7 linked regions of the Homo sapiens genome follow. The protein of the gene in region 5 purifies or fractionates together with the protein of the main gene of each other region. This does not show direct contact. Each region holds a gene or a part of one and is shown on either strand. Other genes may lie near its edges. The genes, in order: INSR, DAB2, L1TD1, PIP5K1C, AP2A2, CLCN7 and OCRL.

Evidence for each region.
Region 1: the proteins of AP2A2 (region 5) and INSR purify together in Homo sapiens (co-immunoprecipitation; one large-scale study listed by IntAct). This does not show direct contact.
Region 2: the proteins of AP2A2 (region 5) and DAB2 purify together in Homo sapiens (affinity purification with western blotting; 2 studies listed by BioGRID, with this or other methods). This does not show direct contact.
Region 3: the proteins of AP2A2 (region 5) and L1TD1 purify together in Homo sapiens (co-immunoprecipitation; one large-scale study listed by IntAct). This does not show direct contact.
Region 4: the proteins of AP2A2 (region 5) and PIP5K1C purify together in Homo sapiens (affinity purification with western blotting, with the first as the bait; one study listed by BioGRID). This does not show direct contact.
Region 6: the proteins of AP2A2 (region 5) and CLCN7 fractionate together in Homo sapiens (co-fractionation; one large-scale study listed by BioGRID). This does not show direct contact.
Region 7: the proteins of AP2A2 (region 5) and OCRL purify together in Homo sapiens (affinity purification with mass spectrometry; 2 studies listed by BioGRID and IntAct, with this or other methods). This does not show direct contact.

Annotation. Positions count from the first base shown.
Region 1 is NC_000019.10:7,165,415-7,168,914, forward strand, and holds part of INSR (insulin receptor isoform Long preproprotein), read right to left. Parts: intron 2,681-3,500; coding exon 2,554-2,680; intron 991-2,553; coding exon 740-990; intron 1-739. UniProt on the Homo sapiens protein: Receptor tyrosine kinase which mediates the pleiotropic actions of insulin.
Region 2 is NC_000005.10:39,390,481-39,393,980, forward strand, and holds part of DAB2 (disabled homolog 2), read right to left. Parts: intron 2,914-3,500; coding exon 2,774-2,913; intron 1,984-2,773; coding exon 1,885-1,983; intron 96-1,884; coding exon 1-95. UniProt on the Homo sapiens protein: Adapter protein that functions as a clathrin-associated sorting protein (CLASP) required for clathrin-mediated endocytosis of selected cargo proteins.
Region 3 is NC_000001.11:62,197,849-62,201,348, reverse strand, and holds part of L1TD1 (LINE-1 type transposase domain-containing protein 1), read right to left. Parts: intron 1-3,500.
Region 4 is NC_000019.10:3,693,969-3,697,468, forward strand, and holds part of PIP5K1C (phosphatidylinositol 4-phosphate 5-kinase type-1 gamma), read right to left. Parts: intron 1-3,500. UniProt on the Homo sapiens protein: Catalyzes the phosphorylation of phosphatidylinositol 4-phosphate (PtdIns(4)P/PI4P) to form phosphatidylinositol 4,5-bisphosphate (PtdIns(4,5)P2/PIP2), a lipid second messenger that regulates several cellular processes such as signal transduction, vesicle trafficking, actin cytoskeleton dynamics, cell adhesion, and cell motility.
Region 5 is NC_000011.10:1,009,305-1,012,740, reverse strand, and holds the end of AP2A2 (AP-2 complex subunit alpha-2), read right to left. Parts: intron 3,414-3,436; coding exon 3,344-3,413; intron 3,059-3,343; coding exon 2,924-3,058; intron 2,194-2,923; coding exon 2,116-2,193; 3' UTR 501-2,115; downstream 1-500. UniProt on the Homo sapiens protein: Component of the adaptor protein complex 2 (AP-2). Adaptor protein complexes function in protein transport via transport vesicles in different membrane traffic pathways.
Region 6 is NC_000016.10:1,447,732-1,451,028, reverse strand, and holds part of CLCN7 (H(+)/Cl(-) exchange transporter 7), read left to right. Parts: intron 1-362; coding exon 363-532; intron 533-1,701; coding exon 1,702-1,753; intron 1,754-1,935; coding exon 1,936-2,063; intron 2,064-2,262; coding exon 2,263-2,348; intron 2,349-2,544; coding exon 2,545-2,674; intron 2,675-3,297. UniProt on the Homo sapiens protein: Slowly voltage-gated channel mediating the exchange of chloride ions against protons. Functions as antiporter and contributes to the acidification of the lysosome lumen and may be involved in maintaining lysosomal pH.
Region 7 is NC_000023.11:129,557,259-129,560,758, reverse strand, and holds part of OCRL (inositol polyphosphate 5-phosphatase OCRL), read right to left. Parts: intron 3,435-3,500; coding exon 3,324-3,434; intron 2,899-3,323; coding exon 2,809-2,898; intron 2,127-2,808; coding exon 2,006-2,126; intron 1,920-2,005; coding exon 1,758-1,919; intron 210-1,757; coding exon 108-209; intron 1-107. UniProt on the Homo sapiens protein: Catalyzes the hydrolysis of the 5-position phosphate of phosphatidylinositol 4,5-bisphosphate (PtdIns(4,5)P2) and phosphatidylinositol-3,4,5-bisphosphate (PtdIns(3,4,5)P3), with the greatest catalytic activity towards PtdIns(4,5)P2.

The sequences.
Region 1 (3,500 bases), on a different chromosome or scaffold from region 5:
GAAGCTGGGAGGCGGCTAACTATGGGGTTTTGTTCTGTGTTGTGAATATTTGACAATTTTTCATAATAGGATGAAAAATATAAATATTCCCATCAAGTGGCTTGTTGCTACTGCCTCGTCTGAAACTATAAGCCTCAATACCCAGCTCCTTTAAAAGCCAATAACTGACTGGGCAAGGTGGCTCACACTTCTAATCCCAGGACTTTGGGAGGCCGAGGCAGGAGGATCACTTGAGGCCAGGGGTTCAAGACCAGCCTGGGTAACACAGCAACGTTCTGTCTCTACAAGAAATACAAAAATTAGCTGGGTATAGTGGTGCATGCCTGTAGTCCCAGCTACTCAGGAGGCTGAGGTGGGAGAATTACTTGAACCTGGGAGGCGGAGGTTGCAGTGAGCCGAGATCATGCCATTGCACTCCAGTCCGGGTGACAGAGTGAGACTTCATCTCAAAGAAAAAAAAAAAAAAAAGCCACACATGGTGGTATACTCTGGTAGTTCCTTCTACTTAGGAGGCTGAGGCAGAAGGATTGCTTGAGCCCAGGAGTTTGAGGCTGCAGTGAGCCATGATCACCCCACTGCATTGCACTCTAGCCTGGGTGACAAAGTAAGACCCTGTCTAAAAAAAAAAAAAAAGCCAATAACCATATCAAGGAGCATTTTATACAACCTCACTGCATCAGCCTATTAAAAGCAAGAGGTCTGATTCACATACGAATTCACATTCCCAAGACACACTCACTGGTGGCATCTGTCTGGACATAAATGATGTCACTCTTGGCCCCATAGGTCCGGCGTTCATCCGAAAAGGTGACCAGGGTCTTCACAAAGATGGCATACTGGGTCCAGGGCTTGAGACCCCGCATCAGCCACCCTGGGTGGTTCTGTGATTTGGGGTCGTTGGACCTCAGGGGTGGGTCAATGTCTACCACCGTCCAACTGTTGGAACCACACGCATCCTGCCCGTCGAACTCCGTCACATTCTGATAAGGGCTTTCAAGACAAAACAGCAGAAGGCAGTTACCCTTACAAGACCGTCACACTGAGTGCCGTGCAGATGAGGCCTGGGAAGTTACATCCCATAGGGTCACATGTTACTCACCCAACAATCTAATGCCACAAGAAAAAATAACTCGGGAACAGCCAAAGAGAAAGGAACTGTCAACCCTGACATCTCAATGAAAAAACACAGCTTGGGCATCCCTTATTCAAAACACTTGAGACTTGGCCAAGTGCAGTGGCTCACGCCTGTAATCCCAGCACTTTGGGAGGCCGAGAATGGCGGATCACCAGAAGTCAGGAGTTCGAGACCAGCCTGGCCAACATGGTGAAACCCCGTCTCTACTAAAAATACAAAAATTATCTGGGCATGGTGGCAGATGCTTGTAATCCCAGCTATTCAGGAGGTTGAGGCAGGAGAATTGCTTGAACCCGGGAGGCAGAGGTAGCATCAGCTGAGATCGCACCACTGCACTCCAGCCTGGGCGACAAAGGGAGACTCTGTTTCAAAAACATAAATAAATAAATAAATAAATAAATGCTTGGGACCAGAAGTGTTTTGGATTTTGGATATTTTGGGGTTTTGAAATATTTGCATTTTACTAGTTAATTTGCATTGTACTGGTTCAGCATCTCTAATCTAAAAATCTGAAATCTGAAATGCTCCAATAAGCATCTCCTTTGAGTATCAAGTCGGCCCACAAAAAGCTTTGGATTTTGGAGCATTATAAATTTCAGATTTTCAGATTAGGGATACTCAATCTGTAATAATAGTAATAGCAGGAGCTCCCTCACAAGTTACTGATAAGATTAGACTGTGTGTCAGTGCTCAGCAAGGCACAAGGTAAATCTTGAGGGCTAGAACTATTATTAATATTACTACTGGTCAGGTGCGGTGGCTCATGCCTGTAATCCCAGCACTTTGGGAGGCCAAGGTGGGCAGATCACCTGAGGTCAGGAGTTTGAGACCAGCCTGGCCAACATGGCAAAACCCGTCTCTATCAAAAATACACAAATTAGCTACGTGTGATGGTGTATGCCCATAATCTCAGCTACTCAAGAGACTGAGGCAGGAGAACTGCTTGAACCCGGGAGGCAGAGGTTGCAGTGAGCCAAGATCTGCCACTGCACTGTACCCTGGGCAACAGAGCAAGACTCTGTCTCAAAAAAAAAAAAAAAATTGGGGATAAAAAAGAAAAATAGATAAGCAATACATTTGATAACATCCACTTAGTAGACTGAGCTCCTGACTACTAAGGATGTCTGATGAGACATACACAGGCAAGGCAAAATAGAATATTGCCCCAGGAAACTGGCCAGTCCGGGCTTCTATGGGAAAGCTGTCTGCTTCCATTTTAGGCATTTGATAAAAGCAGACACTATTGACTTTGCATGCCATCGACTGGTGAGATTGTAAAAAGGAACCTAAGATATTTATTCCAGGAGGAGGAGGGAGATAGACAGGAACCCAAGAGGGGCAGATTGGAGCACAAACGTAGCAAGCACAGAGCCAGCCAGCCCTCGCCTCCTCAGCGTCTCTCTAACTCTTCTACTTACGCCTCTTTGTAGAACAGCATGAACCCCAAGAGGTCTCGGAAGTCGGGGGGCCAGTACGGCTCCCATCTCAGCAAGATCTTGTCAAAAGATGTCCGAATGTAAGAAAATTTAAGTAACTCATTTTCACCTGGAAAAGTTAAAACAAAAGGCAAAAATGAGCTATTTCAGTGTAGTTTCAGACCAAAGCCTGGGACCCCCACACTTCCTGGAGGGACCGTGAGAAGGCAGAGGTGACGCTGCTATTCCCTTAAGGGTCTCCTCCCCATGTGCCTGGCTGAGTATGAATGGGGGAAGATTCAAAGGTAAGAGCCAGTTTTGCAACTTGGCCACTCACACTCACGTAAGCCAATGACTTGACTCAGCCAGACAGTCAACTGAATAAGCGCAGTCTGTACCCGCGCAAGAAGGACAACCGGCCAATAGTTATTGGAGGAAGGGATTTCCAAGGGTGATGTTTGTCCTGACACAACGTTGTCTCGCATATGGACTTGTAAGACTGACCTGGAAGGAGGTGCAACTCCAGTGCAAATAAACCTATGCCAAGTGAGTTTAGAGACCCTGCAGATCATTAGACATCGGAGAGACGCATCTAAGTAATTCTCTCTGCCTAGAAGACAAACCCTCTCCTAAACCTCACCCCAACCTCGCTCTCTCTCCTTGCACTACATTTTTTTTGAGACAGTCTTGCTCTGTCACCAAGGCTGGAGTGCAGTCCACCTACCGGGTTTAAGCAATTCTCATGCCTCAGCCTCTCAAGTAGCTGGGATTACAGGCACCCACCACCACGTCCAGCTAGTTTTTGTATTTTTTTTTTTTAGTAGAGATGGAGTTTCACCACATTGGCCAGGCTGGTCTCGAACTCCTGACCTCAAGTGATCTGCCTGCCTCGGCCTCCCAGAGTGCTGGGATTCCAGGCGTGAGCCACCATGCCCAGCCCTTGCACTACA
Region 2 (3,500 bases), on a different chromosome or scaffold from region 5:
CCTTCTCCTCCACACACGTAACCAAATGCCCGGTTGTCTGTCACATCACGGGCAATGAAAGAAATCTTATTTACTGGATGTTCATGCTCTATTACCTTAAAAAAGAACATAAAGAGTAATTTATTAAGAAAACTAGAATCTATTTGCAGGCTAGCACACCGAAGCCTCAGACACATATATGAAGGCATATATGAAAAGTTTAAACCATTTGAAGATAGACTTTTCATTTCTGGTTGAAGGCTAGAGCATTACTCTTTCTAGAAAGGGCTCAAAAGAAAGAAGAATAGAAAACGTAAGTGGGAAGAATGTTCCTTCTTAAAATATTGATACTTTACTCTCCCTGCTTTAAAGACATGATGCCACATAGCCAGGAAGGACTGAGGATTAGAAGACCAAGTGAAGAGGAGACATTTAGCCCTTAAGCCAAGCCAAATAGGTCTACTTTCCCAACTCAAAGACAAACTTAAAAGAACAGCATAACTAAGCTAGAGGAGTGTTCACAGGGATTCATTGACGATGGCTCAGAGTGGCCGAGGAACCATCCTATGTGTTATTGGAACCGTATTCCCAGTATATTCTGGAGGATACCAAATACTGTCATCAAGTGTTTCTCAGCCTCACCTAGACAGCCTAATACATAGTAACATAATGTAGTAATAACTACAGTATGTTAATGACATAATGACTACATCAGTAACCAGGAATTATAAGGGGTGGGGACTGTATTGGCTTAGTGTCTTTTCTTCTATTTTTCCCTCCTTTTTCTTGATCCTTTCAAGCAGTTAACAAGGTTGAACTCTTTAGGGATATTTGTAGGTGGCAGAGTGTGTCTTGGCTTTTTGTCCTGAATGTCTAAGATATCTTAGAGTATCTTAGAAAGTTTGAGGAGACACAGAAGGGTGAGAGAAACATGCCACCTTTCTCTGATGGGCTTGGGAAAATAAGAGTTGACAGATAAAGGCGACTGATAAAGAGAGTGGTGCCTGAGGACCCCAGCACTAGCAGGCTGAGTGGGGTCCACTAGGGTGCCAGGGCCCTAGGTTTGCATGGTAGATAATGGGCACTCTAGAAAGGGATGAATAGTAACTGGAGGTCTCCTCACAGTATCGTGATGCGAGAGAGTATTTTATAGCAATGAAAATGAGCCACACACAACATTTTAAAAAACATGAGTCTTATGATGTTACATTGAGTACAGAAAAAAAATCACAGAAGACTTGATGTATGATAAATAGCTTTCTGATAAGGCTTAAAAACAAGGCAAAATAAGTAAGACTGTTCACAAGTAATAGAACAACAGGAACCAACAAAAACAAGGTTACATCTGTGAGGTGAGAAGGCAGGGAAAAAAGAAATGAAAAAGAGGTAGATGTGTTATGGGTGAGGTTCTAGCTTTAGGTTAGCCGGTAAGTTCACATGTAAGCAATACATAAAAGTGTCACAAACTAGGGGTTAAAATTAATCTAGTTCTGTATACCCGAGGTCAAAAAAAAAAAAAAAAATATATATATATAGAAGTTTTACTTTATAAATTATATATGTATTTATATTTTAATGTATATTTGTATATTATATAAATTATATATATTTATTTAATTTCAAAAATATATATATTTATATATTATAGACATAATGTGAATCTAAGCCTATTAACAGACTTAACAGACTTAGATTCACATTTATTATAGAACACAAATTCAAAATCAAGTATCTTGACTTTTACCTCCTATTCTGTTTTCTGCCTGTTACTTCTGGAGATGTAATATATGATATATTTGTTCCCCACAGAACTTTGAGAACGAAGAAGGGGAGCCGAAATTCAAGTAGCAAATTGTTGGTCAGACTCAGGTGGTCAGAGAGGTATCAGCAAATGTGAATTCTTACCCCAGTTTTCTCATCAATTATTTTTATCCCAGAAAGGGAAATGTTGACCCAGATCCTTTGTTTGTGTTGTCCCTGAGACCGACCAGCTGCCGCCATTCCCTGATGAGGGTGGAAAAACAAGAGAAGTTGAATTTTTAAAAACATCCTACAATGGTTTTAATATTAAAATTTTCAAAGTCAGTCAGCTTTGTTTTCGACTTGATCTGCCATCGATGAGAGGATTCGGCACTTTTCATCCGGGACAGCAAGACGGCATAGAAGACGTTGAACCAGGGCATCCCTTAGTTAGCTGTGCGAACTCGGACAAGTCACTCTAATTCTCTTGGCCTCAGAATAGTCACTGGTAAAGCTCAACTAGAAGATCTTTAGAGATGTTTCTTCTAGGCCTTGAACTATTGAACAAGTATTATTTATTCAGTCAGTTTCACATAGTGCCATAGTACTAAATTTTTAAATTCAAAAAACAGAAAGGCTAGCGCTAAGGAACACCAATGTCTAAGTAGAATCCTCAATTTTATCAGAACAATTCCCAGGTCTAAAACAGGATATTCCGTGCTCTCCACATATAGTAAGACAAGCAATGCAAATATTTGCACACAGCTTTTATAGGAATAGAAATAGGAATACGCTTGGTTCGTCCTAATGTTGAGCTTGCCAGAAGGAAAAGGCATCTAGAGTCCTATTATACTTGATAAAATTAGGTATCTAGGACATCCCTCCAAATATGCAAACACTCACGGTTTCTCAGAAAATGGGGCACTACTGATGGATAATGTGATTAAAAGCAGTTTTCAAGTAATTGAACAATAGGTCAACAAGAGCTTCTAATATAATTCCCTCTCTTGGACTTTTGCTTAATATACAGATAAAGCATTCATTTCCCTTTTACCTTTAGTTTCATCATAGAGTCTTGGCTCATTTTATCCCCTCTTGCATCTGGCACATCATCAATGCCAATCAGCTTGGCCTTATATTTTACACCATCGCCTTTGAACCTTGCTAAGAGATATTCATCTGTCTTTTCAGGGCCTGAGAAAAGAAAGGAATACAGGATGAAGAATGCTAGTTCTAATTATGACCAAATATGCTCTAGACTCTCCAAAATTTAAGTAATATAAATCCTGATTATACTACAACTGATCATGTATGTAATATTCTGTCCTGTCTTATTCTTACTTCCTTTGAGCAAAATCATGTTCCACAATCAACTGTGTATGGAGTTGAGGTGGGGAGAAAATAAACTGTTAGAAGTACAAAATTGACAGCGTTATGGGAAACGTATGGGAATATGGGAGGTGGGAGTTGGGGACATTTTTCATCATAGTTTTTTTTAAGTCTTTAAAGGAATATAAGGATGATAATATATGTATTTTTAATGTAAGAAAAATAAGCTGCCAAGCAATTTACCAACATTTTAAATTATCAATAAGGCAGAAAGGAATTATGCCTAAGTTCTCTTGAAAATTATTAAGATAATTATCCCATCTTTATAATGTCTTTTGCTCCTTTTACAAGGTCTGTGTAGTCCCATTCCCAATGAGTTCAGTAAAATCAAATGGTAAATAAATAACTGAATGATAACCATATAATAATTAACGACTGCATTATTAACTGAA
Region 3 (3,500 bases), on a different chromosome or scaffold from region 5:
CCAAGATGACACAGAAAGCTGAAAACAAGGGTAAACTTCTACAGGCACATAAGGACAAATTTTTCTGATAACAATTGTGCCTTTATTGTGTCCAATAAACGCTACAATAAATGTACTTGAGGCCGGTTGCAGTGGCTTATGCCTGTAATCCCAGCACTTTGGGAAGTTGAGGAGGGCAGATCACCTGAGGTCAGCAGTTCCAGACCAGCCTGGCCAACATGGTGAAACCCTGTCTCTACTAAAAATACAAAAATTAGCTGGGCATGATGGCGGGCACCTGTAATCCCAGCTATTCCAGAGGCTGAGACAGGAGAATCACTTGACCTCGGTAGACAGAGGTTGAATTAGGGTTAACGCCACTGCACTACAGCCTGGGCAACAGAGCGAGCAAGACTCCATCTCAAAAAAAAAGTAAAAATAAAAATAAAATAAAACAAATAAACTAAAACTAAATAAAATATTTTTAGGAAAGACAATGTAAATCAATAGTAAACATGTGAAAGGTGGCCCAATCCCAGGAGTTGAGTACATAATAAAAAAACAATGAGACCACTTTTACCCATCAGAAGTAGGAATAGTTATTAAACATTTCAGGAAACGAAAAGCCTATTATTAAAGTCAGAAATAATACATATACTCTCCCCTTGAGAATCTACCATTAGGAATGAAACCACCTGTACACTTAGGAATACATGAATAGAAATTTTAGTACTGAGTTTTTTCTGGCCAAAAAATACTAGAAAACAATGTCCTTTAATAAGAGAAGGGTGGAACAAATGATGATTTATGCACACGATGGGATTATATAGAATAGATATAACTATATATAAGTACATAAATACATTAATTTATAAAATATACATTATAATATACATTATGGCCAGGCACAGTGGCTCACGCCTGTAATTCCTGCACTTTGGAAGGCCAAGGCAGGCGGATCATCTGAGGTCAGGTGTTCAAGACCAGCCTGGCCAACATGGTGAAACCCCGTCTCTACTAAAAATACAAAAATTAGCCAGGCGTGGTGGCGGGCTCCACCAGCTACTCGGGAGGTTGAGGCAAGACAATTGCTTGAATGCGGGAGGCGGAGGTTGCAGTGAGCTGAGACCACGCCATTGCACTCCAACCTGGGCAACAAGAGTGAAACTCCGTCTCAAATAATCATAACCATAATATACATTGTTATATATATATACACCATGTTATGATATATATACTCTATATGGTGCATACAATATGTTCAACGTACATATAAAAATTATACCATACATAATAAGAGTATATTAGAATCATACCCATTGGTTAAGGATGTCTTTGGTATACTAGAGGGAAAAAATGGTGCAGAAAATATAGAGTACAATCCAATTTTGTAAACACATATACAAAAACCATATGTACAGTAAACACAAAAAGATTATATTAGTCAGGAGAATGCAAATCAAAACACATTCCAGTGTTTGAACACCCTGATTACAGCCAGTGCAGGGGCAAATATCCACCCTGGCCACATTCATAGTGACCCTGGGGATTTTTTGACCTTTTCAGTAATTAATCTGGCCAGTGCCCTATTATCTAACACTACCTTTTTTGGGTAATGTGTTTTCCAAGAGTCACTCTATAGTACATGACAGGTGCAATGAGAAACTCGAAATTAAGTTATTTTTTTTAAAAGAGACAGGGTCTTGCGATGTTGCCGAGGCTACACTCAAACTCCTGTCTCAGCCTCCTGAGTAGCTGGGAATACAAGCACGCACCACCATGCCTGGCTTAAAACTGAAAATTACAGCCGGGCACGGTGGGATTTATTATTTGTTGTTAACTGTATCAAATGCTGATTTTTTTTTTTTTTTGATACAAGAGTCTCACTCTGTGGATTAGGCTGGAGTGCAGTGGCACAATCTTGGCTCACTGCAAACTCTGCCTCCTGGGTTCAAGCGATTCTCCCGCCTCAGCCTCCTGAGTTGCTGGGACAACAGGCACACGCCACCATGCCCGGCTAATTTTTGTATTTTTAGTAGAGACGGGGTTTCACCATGTTGGCCAGGCTGGTTTCAAACTCCTGACCTCAGGTGATCCACCTGCCTCAGCCTCCCAAAGTGCTGAGATTACAAACATGAGCCACTGCTCCCAGCCTCAAATGCTAAATGCTAAATTATGATTAGCGTTTAATGACAATAAATATATGTGACCTTTTTCACATCCAAGATATCAGATACTCTGAATTCTAGCCAGACACTACCCAGGCACTCTGGGTTCAAAATCCCTGATCAAGAAGAAAGCAGAGGCTGGTACAAGTTTAGCAAATTTTGTCTCAGGGTTGGATGGTAGCCATCAAAAGGGCTCAGGGACCAGACGTCCTGGCTTCTGCCTGCAGTCCCAGCTACTTGGGAGGCTGAGGCGGTCAGATTATTTGAGCCCAGGAGTTCAAGGTTACTCTAAGCTATGATTGCATCACTGCATTCCAGCCTGGGTGACAGAGCAAGACCCTGCCAAAAAAAAAAAAGTGATTAGGGAGACCGGAGATTTTCACCAGTGTACTCCCAAGTTCTGCTTTGTATTTTAAGGAGGTTACTTTAAAAGTATACAATACAGGAGAGCACCGGTTGGAAAGGGCAAGAAATGTTTAGCACTTCCCTCAAGGGACTGGGGGTTGGGAGGGCGGATAAACTTCCTTTAATTTTAGGGATGGAAAAAAGCTTGTTGATTTGCATTGCCTTGGCTTGTGACTGCCATCTTTTCATATGTTTATCTGCTTGCATTTCCTTTGTGGTGTATTACCTTTTCAACACTGGCAGCCTGTTCTTATCGGCGGGGTGGGGCGGCGGCGGGGGGTCGGTGTGTGTGTTTTTCTGAATTTGCTGGGGGGATTATGGACTTCTCTTTTCTTCTTTTTTTTTTTTTTAAATAAGAACAATTACTAGTCCCTCACCTCAGTCTCTATTATCTGACCTCTGAGGCCACCCAAAGTTTGGTGTGGTATCTCTCACAACGTACAGGTGACTTTTGTGTTTTTGCTTTTTTTTTTGAGATCTCACTCTCGCCCAGCGTGGCAAGCAGTGGTGTGATCACTGTTCGCTGGTCACAAACTCCAGGGACCAAGTGATCCTCTCACCTCAGTCTCCTGAGGAGCTGGTATTACAGGCATGCTACCATACCAAGATAAAGTGCCTGGTTTTTATGGGTGCATGGGAGGACAATAAAGGAGAATGCCAACTTCGACTTCTAGTTAGTACGTCTCTCTCCTTGGGTATGGGGACATTTACTTTTTTTTAATAGCTTTATACTTTTAACACTATTTTCTTTTTTTCAATAGGCCATTTGTAATCTTCCAGTTATATATGCACACCTCACTCTTCTATGTGTGACATGCCATATTTTGAACATATTTTGGTTCAATAAGTAATTCCCTCAGCAGTGGGCATTCAAGTAATTTACAGGGTTTTGTTTTGTTTTGTTTTGTTTTCTTCTGTTTTTGAGACAGAGTCTCACTGTCGCCCAGG
Region 4 (3,500 bases), on a different chromosome or scaffold from region 5:
TTGGGAGGCTGAGGCGGGCGGATCACCAGGTCAGGAGATCAACACCCTCCTGGCTAACACGGTGAAACCCTGTCTCTACTAAAAATACAAAACATTAGCCGGGCGTAGTGGCGGACGCCTGTAGTCCCAGCTACTCAGGAGGCTGAGGCAGGAGAATGGCGTGAACCCGGGAGGTGGAGCTTGCAGTGAGCCGAGAACGCGCCACTGCACTCCAGCCCGGGCGAGACAGCGAGACTCCATCTCAAAAAAAAAAAAAAAAAAAAATTTAAAACAAAGGGAAGTCACTTGCTCAGAGGCACACGGGTCTAAGCGGCCAAGGCAGGCTCAGCCCACACCAGGCCCTGGGACCACCCTGCCCAGGCTCCCGGAGCCTCCACCTGCTTTGGGGGTCCCCACTGCCTGCTCACCCCACATCGGCACACACCTGCCACAGTGCCTGGGCTCCCAGTCCTGCTCTGTCCTCAGTCCTCGCCACCCCAGCCACCAGCTCCAGGGCCCAGGCCAAAATCCTTCCAGGCCCCTCGTCTGCCTCCAGGCACCGGTGGCACTCACCTGGACACCTGCCCCAACCCCACAGAGCACTGCCCACGGACCATCCCCCACCAGGCGCTGTGAATCGGGCTCGCCGCCCCACTCAGATGCCCGTGCCACCCGCTGTCCTCAGGTCCGACCCCACGCGACCCTCTCCCACCACGTTGACTTCACTTCTGCGGCTCAAGTGGGTGCAGCAAGTTCCCACCCCACGGCCTCGGCGCGACTATTCCGCTGCCTACATCGCCTGAGCCACAGCCCACCCTTATTCAGCTCGTGGGGACAGTCACCTCCCTCCGAGTCCTCAGCTGCCGCAGGCCTGGCCACTTGACCTCCCAGGTGCCCTCACCACACTCATCACCGCCCAACGCAGCCCGGCTCTGGGCTGGGCAAACATCTTCCGTAAAGGACCGGGCAGCAAGTGTTTTCGGCTTCGTGGGACACGTAGCCCCAAGCATGGCCACTCAGCTCCCAGCTCTGCCGCTGCAGCGTGGGGGCCACCAAGGCCGGCAACGGAACAAATGGTGTGGCCGTTGCCAATAAAACTTTGTTGACAAGAAGCGGCATGGACAGATTCGGGTGGGGTCTCACGTGGCCACTTGTTCCCATCTGCAGCCTGACGCCCAGCAACCTGAGGGCTCCAAGGGGTCAGCGAGGCAGTCCCGTTAGCACCAGAAGACTGGGCACCCTGAGCCCCACCTGGCCCACACGAGGTGCTCAACAAAGGTCTGGAGCCCAGGAGTGGAACTCACACTTTCACGAGCCGACTCCCATGGCGGACCCCAGCGCCCAGGTGAGCTCGCTTGGCACCTGGGCCCCGGAAGCAGCACACGAAGGGGACTCCCTCTCCTCCAACAGCAACCTGGGACGGAGGGGGCACCCAGCTTTCTCACGGGGCCGGCTGCCTGTCCCGTGCCTTCTAAGGGCTTTACCCCATGATTCTCCATGCAGCCCAGGAGAAAGGCAGCCATCACGCCCACTTTACAGACAGGTACACCGAGGCTGCACATCCCCGGCTGGCATGCAATGGCGCTGGGTGTGAACCCAGGAGGGCCGGCCCCCGAGGCCTCTCCACTGGGACACCCAGGCTGTGGTGGTCACAGTGCCTGACCTGCATCCCGGGAGGCGGCCAGGGCGGGAGAGAATGGGGAACTTTCCGTCCCCAGTGTCCTCAGCCTCCGCCTGGGCCCTGCTGACTTGCAACAAGAGACACCACAATCCCACTGACCCTTTTTTTTTTTTTTTTTTGAGATACGATTCTGCTGTCACCCAGGCATGCAGTGGCACGATCACAGCTCAGTGCAGCCTCAGCCTCCCAGGCTCAGGTGATCCTCCTGCCTCAGCCTCCTGAGTAGCTGGAACTACAGGTACATACCATTACGTCTAGCTACTTCTTTTAATTTTTTTTTAGTAGAGACAGGGGTCTTGCTATGTTGCTCCAGGCTGGTCTCAAACTCCTGAGATCAAGTGATCCTCCTGCTTCAGCCTCCCAAAATGCTGGGATTACAGGTGTGAGCCACCGTGCCCGGCCTCCCTGACCTTTTTACACAGACCACCACAGCTACAGGGAGGCCCTGGTGGCGGTGCTGACTCCCTGCCCGGCCGCCCTGTGACCACACTACACTGTGCTCCAGGCAGGCGGGGCCTCTGCTGGGGCCATGCCCTCTTCCTGCCCAATGCCCACAGGTCTCCCTCGGATGCCACCTTCTTGGCAAGGCCTTCCCAGCCACCCCATTCTACCTTACCCTTCCTCCCTGGCACTGCTGGCCTCATGCACCTGATGTTCACCAGGATCTGCACTGTGCTGAGCTCTTCCGGGCGCAGGGGATGCCGCAGGAGTGGCACAGACGGTCTTGGCCCTCGTGGAGCTCTCGCTCAGGAGGAGATGGTCAGAAAACACGTCAGCAGAGCCATATGTTTCAGGTGGTGACAAACGCTATGGTGGCACAATCAGGGAAGAGGAACCGGGAGGGCAGGGGACGGAGAAGGGGAGACCGCTGTGTGGTGACAGCAGGGCAGGGAGGCCTCACGGAGAGGAGATGCTCCCACAAAACCTGGAAAGCGCTAAGGGAGCAAAGGACACAGATGGGAGGAGGGGCATTCCGGGGTGGGGGTGGGGGGCAGCCGTGCAAAGGCCCCGGGGCAGGACCATGCCCTGCATGCTGGAGGAACAGCAAGGGGCCCATGGGCCTACAGCAGAGTGCAGACGGGAGGGCAGGGAGGGCAGAGTGCGGAGGGGAGGGCAGGGAGGGCAGGGAGGGCCCGGGGCAGGCTGTGCAGGGCCTGATGGGCTTCAAAGAGGACTATGTCTTTGACCCCAAGGGAGGTGGGAGCCATGGAGGGCTGCGAGCAGAGGAGGGTCGGGACTCGGGCCGCTGGTTTTTAATGGGGTCCTCCTGGAATGTGGGACAGGGAGCAGAGGAAGAGCAGGGGCGCCAGGCCTGGCTCAGGGGGCAAAGGAGGACTGAGCTGGACCGAGGAGGACTGAGCTGGACGGAGGAGGATCGAGCTGGACCGAGGAGGACCGAGCTGGACAAAGGAGGACTGAGCTGGACCGGGGAGGACCGAGCTGGACCAAGGAGGACCGAGCTGGACCGAGGAGGACCAAGGAGGACCGAGCCAGACGAAGGAGGACTGAGCCGGACGAAGGAGAACCGAGCCGGACAGAGGAGGACCAAGCTGGACTGGGGAGGACTGAGCCGGATGGAGGAGGACTAAGCTGGACCGGGGAGGACCGAGCTGGACCCGGGAGGACCGAGCCAGATGGAGGAGGACCAAGCCGGATAGAGGACCGAGCCGGATGGAGGAGGACTGGGCCGGACGGAGGAGGACCGAGCTGGACCGGGGAGGACCGAGCCAGACAGAGGAGGACTGAGCCAGACGGAGGAGGACTGAGCTGGACCGGGGAGTACTCAGCCAGACGGAGGAGGACCGAGCTGTACGGAGGAGGACCGAGCTGGACCGAGGAG
Region 5 (3,436 bases):
CCTGGGATCTGCAGTTGGGCAGGGCTGCCCCCAGCAGGGTCTGGGCTGGTAAGAGAAGCTGCCTCTGGCTTTGGGCCCCTGCCCTCCCTCCATTAGGACTGTTCCGTCTCTGGCGAAGCCCACCGTCCTCCGGGGGCCACCCCCATCTGCCCGAGAGCCCCTTCTGCACCATCTGTGGTAGGATCAACTGGAGGATCCCCACGGGGCCTCCCGTTCCCCAGGAAGGAGCCCTGGGCTGCACCTCAACACACTGTACAGTGGGGAGCCCTGCGGCCAGGCTGGAGGGGTTCCCGCATGACCTGAGTCCCAAAAAGCTCCACCACACACCCAGAATCAAACCGGCGGAGCAAAGGGCAGGTCACTTTCTGATGCCCGCTGCCCGTGAGCCCACTGCTGAAGGACAGGTCGGGGACCTTGGGGTCTGTGCCTCACGCGACCCCCGGGGAGCTATGAGGGTTACATGGGATGCTTTCCCCCCAAAGAAAGCGCGTGATCCGGGGTGCAGTTCTAGCCTTTATTTTTCTTTGACGAGGAGTGCCACACTGAGGGCCCCTCTGCAGCGCCGCACAGGGAAGCGGTGCCTCGGGGAGCAGCCTTTCCTCTGATGGCGGGAGGGGTCAAGGGATGCAGGAGATCCACGGCAGCACACGCAGCCTGCAGGCGCAGCACACAGGCAGAGCACTGCCCAGCAGCTGGAACATGAGAATGAGGGCCACACCACCCAGCTGCAGCACAAGCCCAGCACGGCGTGTCACGGCACCTGGCACCACCAGACCCAGAATGGCCTGTGCGAGAGGCGCACGCCACTGACGTGGCTATGCTGTGATCAAAGCCCGACACGCCGGAAGAAGAGCCGCAGACATTGTGGGGTGCACACACTGCAGGGGAGCTGTGGAGACCCTGATGGGTCCATGAGCCCCTGCAGCTGCCCCAGGGACCCGCACAGCAGGCAACTGAGGGCCAGGGTGAAAACCCTCAAGCACATGTGGCCACCCACCCTCCCTGCCTCCACAGCATGTCAGGAAGCCAGAACCTGTGCTGGGTGTGTTTAGGACAAACAAGGCCACCATCCTGGGGACAGAGCGCAAGGCCCCAGCCTTGGCTCCTAGGCCGGCCCCACTCTCTCGCCTCTCAGGTGTCAGACGTGCAGCCTGGGTGCTGAGTCCAGATGACAGGTGAGACACAAGCCGCAGGTGGCACATGGCATGCGGCCAATGGCCCCTTCACTTCCTGACCACACAGAGGCGTCCCTCCTCCACAGCCCCTCCAGGGACGACTGGACGGGGCCGGTGGAAGGACTCAGGCCTGCACCGTGGCCTGGGGACGCCCACTCTGACAGGAAAGAGACGAGCACACCTCTGAGTCTTGCGCCACCGGCCCACACTTTACCCTGGAGTCCTGGGGGCCCTGCGGGGCCGGCAGGACGCTCCTCCCCTGGCTGCACATCCAAGGCCTCGGCGACTGCAGGAGCATAACAGACGCCCTTCACAAACAGGAGCTGGGAAAGGAGAACAGTTACATCCGGCCAGGACACGTGCTTTTGCCAGAAGTCATTACAAATACAAATGTTTCTAAATTCTAGATTAAAATCCTGCCTGGGAAAACAGTCCAGCTGGGACTGCAGCAAAACCAGGGTCAGCTGTGCTCCTCCCAAGGGCCCAGGACGACGCCAGGTGTGCAGCCACCAGGACGGCCACACACCAAGGCTCAGCCCACGCCATGCACAGTGGCACTGCTGCTCCCAGAGGCTCCGAGGCGGGGTGGGCGGCAGCACGGGCCATCTCAGTGACACTCCCACAAACGCCACGTTCACGCCAACTTCTAATTTCCCTTTAATTTGTAGATTTAACCACAGAACTGTCTCGATTTTTATAAAAATTGATCCCAAGATCCACCTTCTGCCGTGGCTGCCACAGTCCAGGCTGAGCTTTTCCTCCTGAGCCACACACGTGTGTTCCCGTCCAGCCCAAAGGGGAGAGGTGTGGGGCGGCGGGGCGGGGAGGCGCCTTGTGCTGTGGCACTGGACACGGTGCTCATCTGCAGGATGGCCACGAAGACAAACGGCACAGACGAAGACAACACAAGACACACGAGCCTGGTCTTCCATCCTCAGGACTAAAACTGCGCTGAGAGCAATTCACATAATCTCTGAGAAACGGCTTCCTTACTTGTGCGCAGCGTGAGCCGGTACATCTGAAACAGAGAGCACAGCAGGTCAACGGGCACGCCGAGGCTCACACAGCCCTCGGGTCCAGGATCCGCCATGCAGAACCCTGTGGGCCATGCCCAGGGACCACTCTCTGGAGGCACCCACAACTCGGCAGAGGCCTGAGCACCACACACACTGTCAGCATGAAAACTGAGGGCTGGCATGGGAGCGCCTGGCGTCTCGTACGTAGCTGGCGGGAGTGCAAAGTGGCACGGCCACCTGGAGAAGCTGTGGGATGTTCTTGCAGCACTAACCACACACAGGCCCTGGGCGACAGCAGCACTCCTGGGTGCCACCCAAGTGAAACGGAGACAGGTGTCCGTCGCCAGAACGGGACGTGGTGAGAAGGAACAACGCGGTGACAGAGAGGAACAGCTGGGAGAGCCACCGCCCAGGGCCAGGCTGCTCCATGGTGGGACGATGCTCCACGGTGGCCAGCTGTGGGGAGGCTGGGATGCAACCATGTATTGACAGGGTGGTGGTTAAACAGGCACACAACATCTGTCACAACTGACTGAACTGCACTAGGGATGATGCTCCACGGTGGCCAGCTGCGGGGAGGCTGGGAGGCAACCATGTATTGACAGGGTGGTGGTTAAACAACATCTGTCAAAACTGACTGAACTGCACTAAAGAGCTACACATCTCACCACGTACATTGTGCCAGAATAAAAAGCAACTCAAGTGTGTTCCACCATTTCCTGAGGGCCTGACCTGGGCTTGCAGGTTCGGCTCCAAGCGCAGCAGGCATCCAATCTGGGTGGTTTTCGTGTGGATGATTCCAGCTCCCACGAAATTCGCAGGATTAGGATCAACTTCTTCAAGAAGTGCAGAACCAAATCCAATGATCTGTCCAAAGAAACAGGAGAATGAGGACCCTGGCGCGGGGTCGCGGGCAGCGTGTCCCCCGGGGCCGCCCCTCCAGACCCTGGCGCTGGGTCGTGGGCTGCGTGTCCCCCGGGGCCGCCCCTCCAGACCCTGGCGCTGGGTCGCGGGCTGCGTGTCCCCCGGGGCCGTCCCTCCAGACCCTGGCGCGGGGTCATGGGCTGCGTGTTCCCCGGGGCCGTCCCTCCAGACCCTGGCGCGGGGTCACGGGCTGCGTGTCCCCCGGGGCCGTCCCTCCAGACGTGTTACCTTGGCTTTGGTGACTTCTGTGTCCATTGGGTGCTTTGCTTTGAAGATGTTCTGCACTTCCTGCTGTGGACTGTGAGAAACAGCAAAGGCGAG
Region 6 (3,297 bases), on a different chromosome or scaffold from region 5:
CTGTGGGGGGCACCCTCTTCCCGGAGCCAGGCTGCGAGCTGCACCACGGTGCACACCCATGGAGTGTAGACCTGGCGCTGCTAGACCCAGCTGGGCCGCCCCGCTGGACGCGGCTCCTGCTTCTGCTGGCATCAGGGCCCCGCAGAGCCTCTTCCCCTGTGGCCTCCCCATGGGATCCTTTTAGCCTTTCTGCTTCCCAGGGAGGCTGAGAACAGGGAGCCTTCTGGGGACCGCTGGGCTCGGGAGCTCAGGTTGCTGGGCTCCTGGAAGGTGACTGTGAGGCCCGAGACTGGGCAGCGGGGCAGGGCAGTCCTGCGGAGGCGGGAGTCGTGGAGGCCCCGTCAGCCCCTCTTCTCTCCTAGGCTCCTACAACCCCCTGACCCTCGGCCTGTTCACGCTGGTCTACTTCTTCCTGGCCTGCTGGACCTACGGGCTCACGGTGTCTGCCGGGGTCTTCATCCCGTCCCTGCTCATCGGGGCTGCCTGGGGCCGGCTCTTTGGGATCTCCCTGTCCTACCTCACGGGGGCGGCGGTGAGTGGGGCCGGAGGGGAGGCTGTGGGGCCCTGCAGCTGAGCCAGGTCTTGCGGCATCGCGGGCCGGAGCAGAAGTCCCAGGGCAGGACAAAAGTGTCGCACCTCACGTGGTTCACGGGCCGTGGGCGTTGTCCTCGCGTGGTTCACGGGCCGTGGGCGTTGTCCTGCTGTGGTGGCAGCGTGTACTGTGGCAGCGCAGCCCATGTGTGGAGTCTGGACCAGGCGAAGGTAGGGGGCGGAGGCTCGTGTCCTTATTCTTGAGAATGTGATGAAAAGCAGAGGTGATTGTGGGCTGCTGCAGAGCTGTTTCTAGACTCCATGGGGTGGATGTCCGGCCAGGGCTGCTCTCTGTGAGGCCGGGGGCCAGAGCGGCATACACTGCCCTCCAGACCTCAGCCCCCGCAGGCCTTCCTTCTCTGCCTGCCTCTGCTGGGACTGGGTTCTCTTATGTGTCTTCTGTTTCTCATTTCAGTCGCTTAAATAAGACTGAAAACCTGTAAGAGGCCCTGGCAGGAAGCCCCCGGCCATGCTTCTCATCCCCGGCAGGAAGCGCCCACTCCTGCTCCCCAGGCCCGTGTGCTCTGCCCATCTCCCTCCGCACAAGGGTTTGGTTTGGTTTTTAAAATTGAAACATGATTCAAATACCGTAAAACTCATCGTTTTAAAGAGGGCAGTTCAGCGGCGTTTCTCACGTTCACGAGGCAGTGCGGCCGTCACTACCACTTCTAGAATGTTCCGTCATCCCAGAATGGAAACCCTGTGCCCACCGACCCTCGTGCCCCGCTTTCTGCAGCCTCCATGCCTGGGTTCTGTGGCCCAGCCTGATGTTCCCGGGGCTCTCTGTGTCGTGTGTGCCGGGGTTTCACTCCTCATGCTGGACGGTGCTCCCTAGTTGGCCTGGGCTGCTGCGTGGTGACTGTGCCCTCTGCATCCTCCATGCCTGCCACTCCCCTGTTGCTCGGGTGCTGAGCGCCTGGTTCAGGCCAAGGATGCAGCCTCCGCAGCAGGGTGTACTGTGCTAGGTTGTTCTGTGTGTATGTACGCGGCCACGAGGTTTGTTCCTGGCTGTGGGGCTGCTGGGCCTGGGCAGGGCCTCCTCCGTCTGTGTATCTTGGTGGGTTTGGGCCTGCCACCACACTGACACCTCCTCCGTGTCACCTCCCACAGATCTGGGCGGACCCCGGCAAATACGCCCTGATGGGAGCTGCTGCCCAGCTGGGTATGTCCCAGCTCTTGCCCGATGGGTGGGGAGCTCCACGGGGTCTGGAGGGGGCCATGGCTGTCCTTGCGGGGCTAGGGTCTGGGAGCAGGTGGATGGGATGGGTGCTGCAGAGAAGGCAGTGGCCACGTGACCCTGAGCCAGGAGGGTGGACGTGCTGGGGTTCATGATGGCTCCCGCAGGCGGGATTGTGCGGATGACACTGAGCCTGACCGTCATCATGATGGAGGCCACCAGCAACGTGACCTACGGCTTCCCCATCATGCTGGTGCTCATGACCGCCAAGATCGTGGGCGACGTCTTCATTGAGGTGCGCCAGGGCCTCGAAGCCTCACCCTGAGAGCGTGGGTGCTGCCATAGGGGAGGGGCCCCTGTGAGCCTCCAAACAGCCGGTCCCGGGGGGTAGGCTCAGGGTTTCTGGGGGCGGCCTCTGGGCTCCCAGGGGTAGGCTCGGGGCTCCAGGGGTGGGTGTGGACTCCTCAAGCCCTGTGTTCCCGCCCCGCCCGCAGGGCCTGTACGACATGCACATTCAGCTGCAGAGTGTGCCCTTCCTGCACTGGGAGGCCCCGGTCACCTCACACTCACTCACTGCCAGGTACAGCGCCCAGGACACCTGTGGGTGGGGAGGGTGTCCAGCGGCCTCTTGTTGCACAGGGGCAGGGTGCACGGCTTGCGGGCTCCAGGCAGCCCCGCGTTTCCTGTCCAGCGGCTTCACACCTCACCAGCCCGCAGAGGTAACTGTGGGAGTTGGTGGCGTGTGACGGGCATGTGTGGCCGGGCTCCTCCGGCAGGGAGGTGATGAGCACACCAGTGACCTGCCTGAGGCGGCGTGAGAAGGTCGGCGTCATTGTGGACGTGCTGAGCGACACGGCGTCCAATCACAACGGCTTCCCCGTGGTGGAGCATGCCGATGACACCCAGGTACCGGGCACCCCATAGACAGGGTCCTGCCTATGTGACCTCTGTCGAGTCCATTGGTGGGAAGCACACGGCAAGGTTTGCAGGATGGGGAAGCTGCACGTTTGGGTGCACTGGCAGTTCCAGGAGTGCCGGAAGCTGAGTGTGCAGCCATGGAGGGCTGTGTGGACGCTGAGGCTGGTGGGGGGGGCTGCGGCCTGGCAGGGTCTTGGGGTTGGCACCCAGGCTGGGCTGAGAGCCGTGGCACTGGGGGCCGTGACTTTGTCAGGAGGCCCTGACAGGACACACAGCTCGGCCACTGCTGTGTGTCTTTTAGACGTGGACACTGGGTGTTTGGAGGTTGGTTTTTATTGGGACCCAGTGGGGCTGCATCTGCCCTGCAGCAAAGCCACCATCCCTGGGCCCTTGGCTCTCTGCTGTGCGCGGTCAGGCCCCGCTACCCTGTCGCCGATCCTTGGGTCCCGTGGCATTGTGCGTGTGGGATGCCATGGCGAGGCTGGTGTGAGCAGGTAGCCACCGACACGGGGCCCATGCCCAGATGGGAAATCTGGCCGGAACAGGGTCAGAGCGGGGCCCGACACAGCATTCCAGCGCAGCCTCCCACCCTCGGGCCCGTGGCCCTGACC
Region 7 (3,500 bases), on a different chromosome or scaffold from region 5:
ATAGTCTACAGTAGGTTTTACCAACAGTCTTTTTTAAAAAAGGCAAAACATCATGTAAATGAACACCAAACATATAGCCAAAAGGAAATTCCAGAAGTGTTCTTTACCCAATGCAGTAGATATCAGGAGGATTGGGATCACAGTTCAGCCAAGGTTCTAACCCGCTATCTGGAGACTGGCCATTCACATTCCAAGTTCCAACAAAAAATCTAATACATAATACGAAAAGATAATTTGAAAACAAAGATCAAGTATAAACCAACAGAAGTTCTTTCTTTTCGCTTCCATACAAAGGTATGTTCACAATATGCTAACATAATTCCTCAAAATGTTTTGCCACATATGTAAGAAAGATCTTTTGCATCTAGAACACAAAGGCAGTGGGCTTATTTTCTCTAAATTTTACATTAAGTAAAACTACAGAAGGAAACCAAGTCTTTATTTTTAAAAAATGCAAAGGTAATTGCTATACCACATTTCCTTTCAATTAAGCTCCATCCAAACTCATACTTGATAGGAGAGCTTATGGATGGGAAAGAGGTATCTTCATGCTGTAAGCTAGTCAAATATGGATAAATGTTCTATAAGGGGCTATAGTTGACTCCAGGAACTCACTTCCTGAAGGATTACAAGGACATCTGTGTAGGAAATTCTGATGAGGCAGACATAGTATTAAGGGGGAAAGCAGAAGGGAAAACTCATGACTGTCTTAACTGTTTACACACAAATATAAGCATAGTGGGGGATATGAGGAACTGCAAGTTTTAGCATAGGGATATAGTTATGACTGAATTAGAATAAATGAGGTATGACAGGATAGCAGATGGGACTAGAATCTTGGACTAGAAGGGTACATTCTGCTCATGAATAACAAAGAAATGTGGTGTTGCTTCATGCATTGGCGATACATGCCACATGGTACCTCACATGCAGCATACACACACAAGTCCAGAAAAAAGATGAAATAAAAAATAATACAGATAAAAGAACCCAAGATAGACCTCCCAATCAAGAGGACTGGGTGAAACTTTCTTTATTTACCAAAGTAAGTAAGTTAAGAGCTAGTGGTAATGATGGACTTTAATTTTCTAATATTGGCTGAAAAAAAAAAACTTAACAGGCCAGATATATAAACACGCTTGCTTATGGAATGTGCTAGGGGAAAATTCTCTAGTACATGTGACCTTGATTTGGTTCTCTAGGACTCAGTAGAGACATTAGTAGACATGGCATTATTAGTAGTTAGAAAATCCAAGGGAAGGCCAAGCACGGTGGCTCAAGCCTGTAATCCTAACACTTTGTGAGGCCAAGGCGGGTGGATTGCCTGAGCTCAGGAATTTGAGACCAGCCTGGGCAACCTGGTGAAACCCAGTCTCTATAAAAAACACAAATATTAGCTGGATGTGGTGGTGTGCACCTGTAGTTCCACCTACTTGCAGGGCTGGCGTGGGAGGATTGCTTACGACTGAGAGGTTGAGGCTACAGTAAGCCATGATCTATCTGCTCTCCAGCCTGGGTGACAAAGAGAGACCCTGACCCACACACACAAAAAAAGAAAATCCAAGGGAAACTGTAGCATCTGCATTATTTCTGATATGCATGTTATTGGCCAGCATAGAGACAGGAGCTTGAAACAGGCAACCATTCCTTTTTATCATATTTTGATTCTTAATTAGGCTAATGTCTTAAATATCAACAGGCCACTGTCTGTTATATATACTAACTTTTTAGACTCAGGAAGCAAAAGAGACACTAACCTGAAAGTCTGAATGTTGACATATTCTTTCTCTCGCTTTGCCAGGATATGTTTGATGAGACCCTCCCGCTGCCCAGATTGGGTATTTGGTACAAAGAGCTTCCGCATGGTGTTGGTCACTTTGGGCTGCTCCTTGTTAGAAGCTTCTTTTTCACGTGGAAGCCTAGCAAATAAATGAGAGATTCAAAAGTAAAATTGTTTAAACTATAATTCTCCTACAAGGCAAATATGTTTTCACATGGGACTTACATTTTATTCACTGAAAAGGGTGGAGGTGGGGGTTCCCGATGAATCCCAGTAGGCTGATTTTGTGAATTTATTTTCTTGTCCAAATTCATAGAAGAAAAATTGTCTTCAAATCCAAGAAGCCCTGAAAGACACAGACCCCAAAGTCAAACGGGGAAAAAATCTAACATCCAACATATCCAGGGTAACAGGGCTTTGATTTGATCACAATTTGATCAGTGGTATTACTAAACAGAAAACTATCATAAGGGTAGAAATTACTTGGATTGGAGTTCGAAGAAGCATACCTATCCCTGAAGCACTGATATACTAACTAGAACAATAGAAGTTTATAAGAACTTGGAACAGACTAGTAATAGCTAACATTTATTGAAGACTGAGCACAATGCCTGGTTGAGAGTAAGGGACTATATCATGATCTCACTTAATCATCACAAAAACTCCAAGAAGTAAGTACTATTAAAAATCTTCCCATATTACAGAAAGGAAAAGGGAAGTTCAGAGTTGTTGAGTAACTTGATGAAGGTTGTACAACTAGTAAGTTCTTGACTTGGGATTCAAATCCAGGCTGTCTGGCTCTCGAGCTTGTACTTTCTACCACCCTGCTAAGCTGGCTCCTGAACAGCTACCATGCTACAGGAAGGATAAGGAGTGAACACTGGTCAGTGGGCCTGGACTTGATAAAACTACTCTGCAGGAGAATGTGTCTGACATCAGCTTTAATCTACATCACCATATTTGGCCTGACAAAATCTACTGACTCTGCAATGACCATAGCAACAAGGAAACCAGGAACTTTTTAGTACCTGAAAAAACAGAAGGTTTGTCCTTAGTGTCTAATTTCTGGTACCAGCTAGATGAGTCCTTTTGCTCTGGAACAAGAAGCTGTGACTGAGCTAGAGAGATAAGGTTCATGGTCAGAAACTGGGAAGTCTTTCACTGAGTAGAATTTACTATAGCCAAAAGCCATTCTTTCAACATTCCTTATATGCAGGGGCCAGCACCATTTTTGGATACAGTGGAAGAAACTAAGGAAATGAGGGCAGCTCTGGGGTCATCTAGGGGCAGAAGGAGAATTATAGTCTATGGTAAGCTGTGCTTGCCATGACACTGAATATTCTGAAAACTTGCCTAGTGTCCTTAAAGCTGGGCAGATTTTTTCCCTAACCTATCCCTGTGTTCACTCCTGAAGAAAAAAAAATCAGCTATCAGGGCTTAAAGGGTGAGGTATTTTGCCAATGGCCACTTTCCTCTGTATCAGCATGTCAGAATTCCACTCCCGTTGAAATAGAAGAAAGAAAATCGCTGAGTCTTTAGTTACCTTTCTGAGCAGCAAGGACAGCTGAGAGGAACTTCAAACAGTGTTCCTCATCAGGGATTTCAAAGCGGCGCTCTCTGATCCAGTCCCCCTGAACCCGAATTTTGCAGCCACCTAAAAAGAATTGAAATCCATACATATACTGCTATGGGATAAAATGTTTTACTGGGATCATATTCT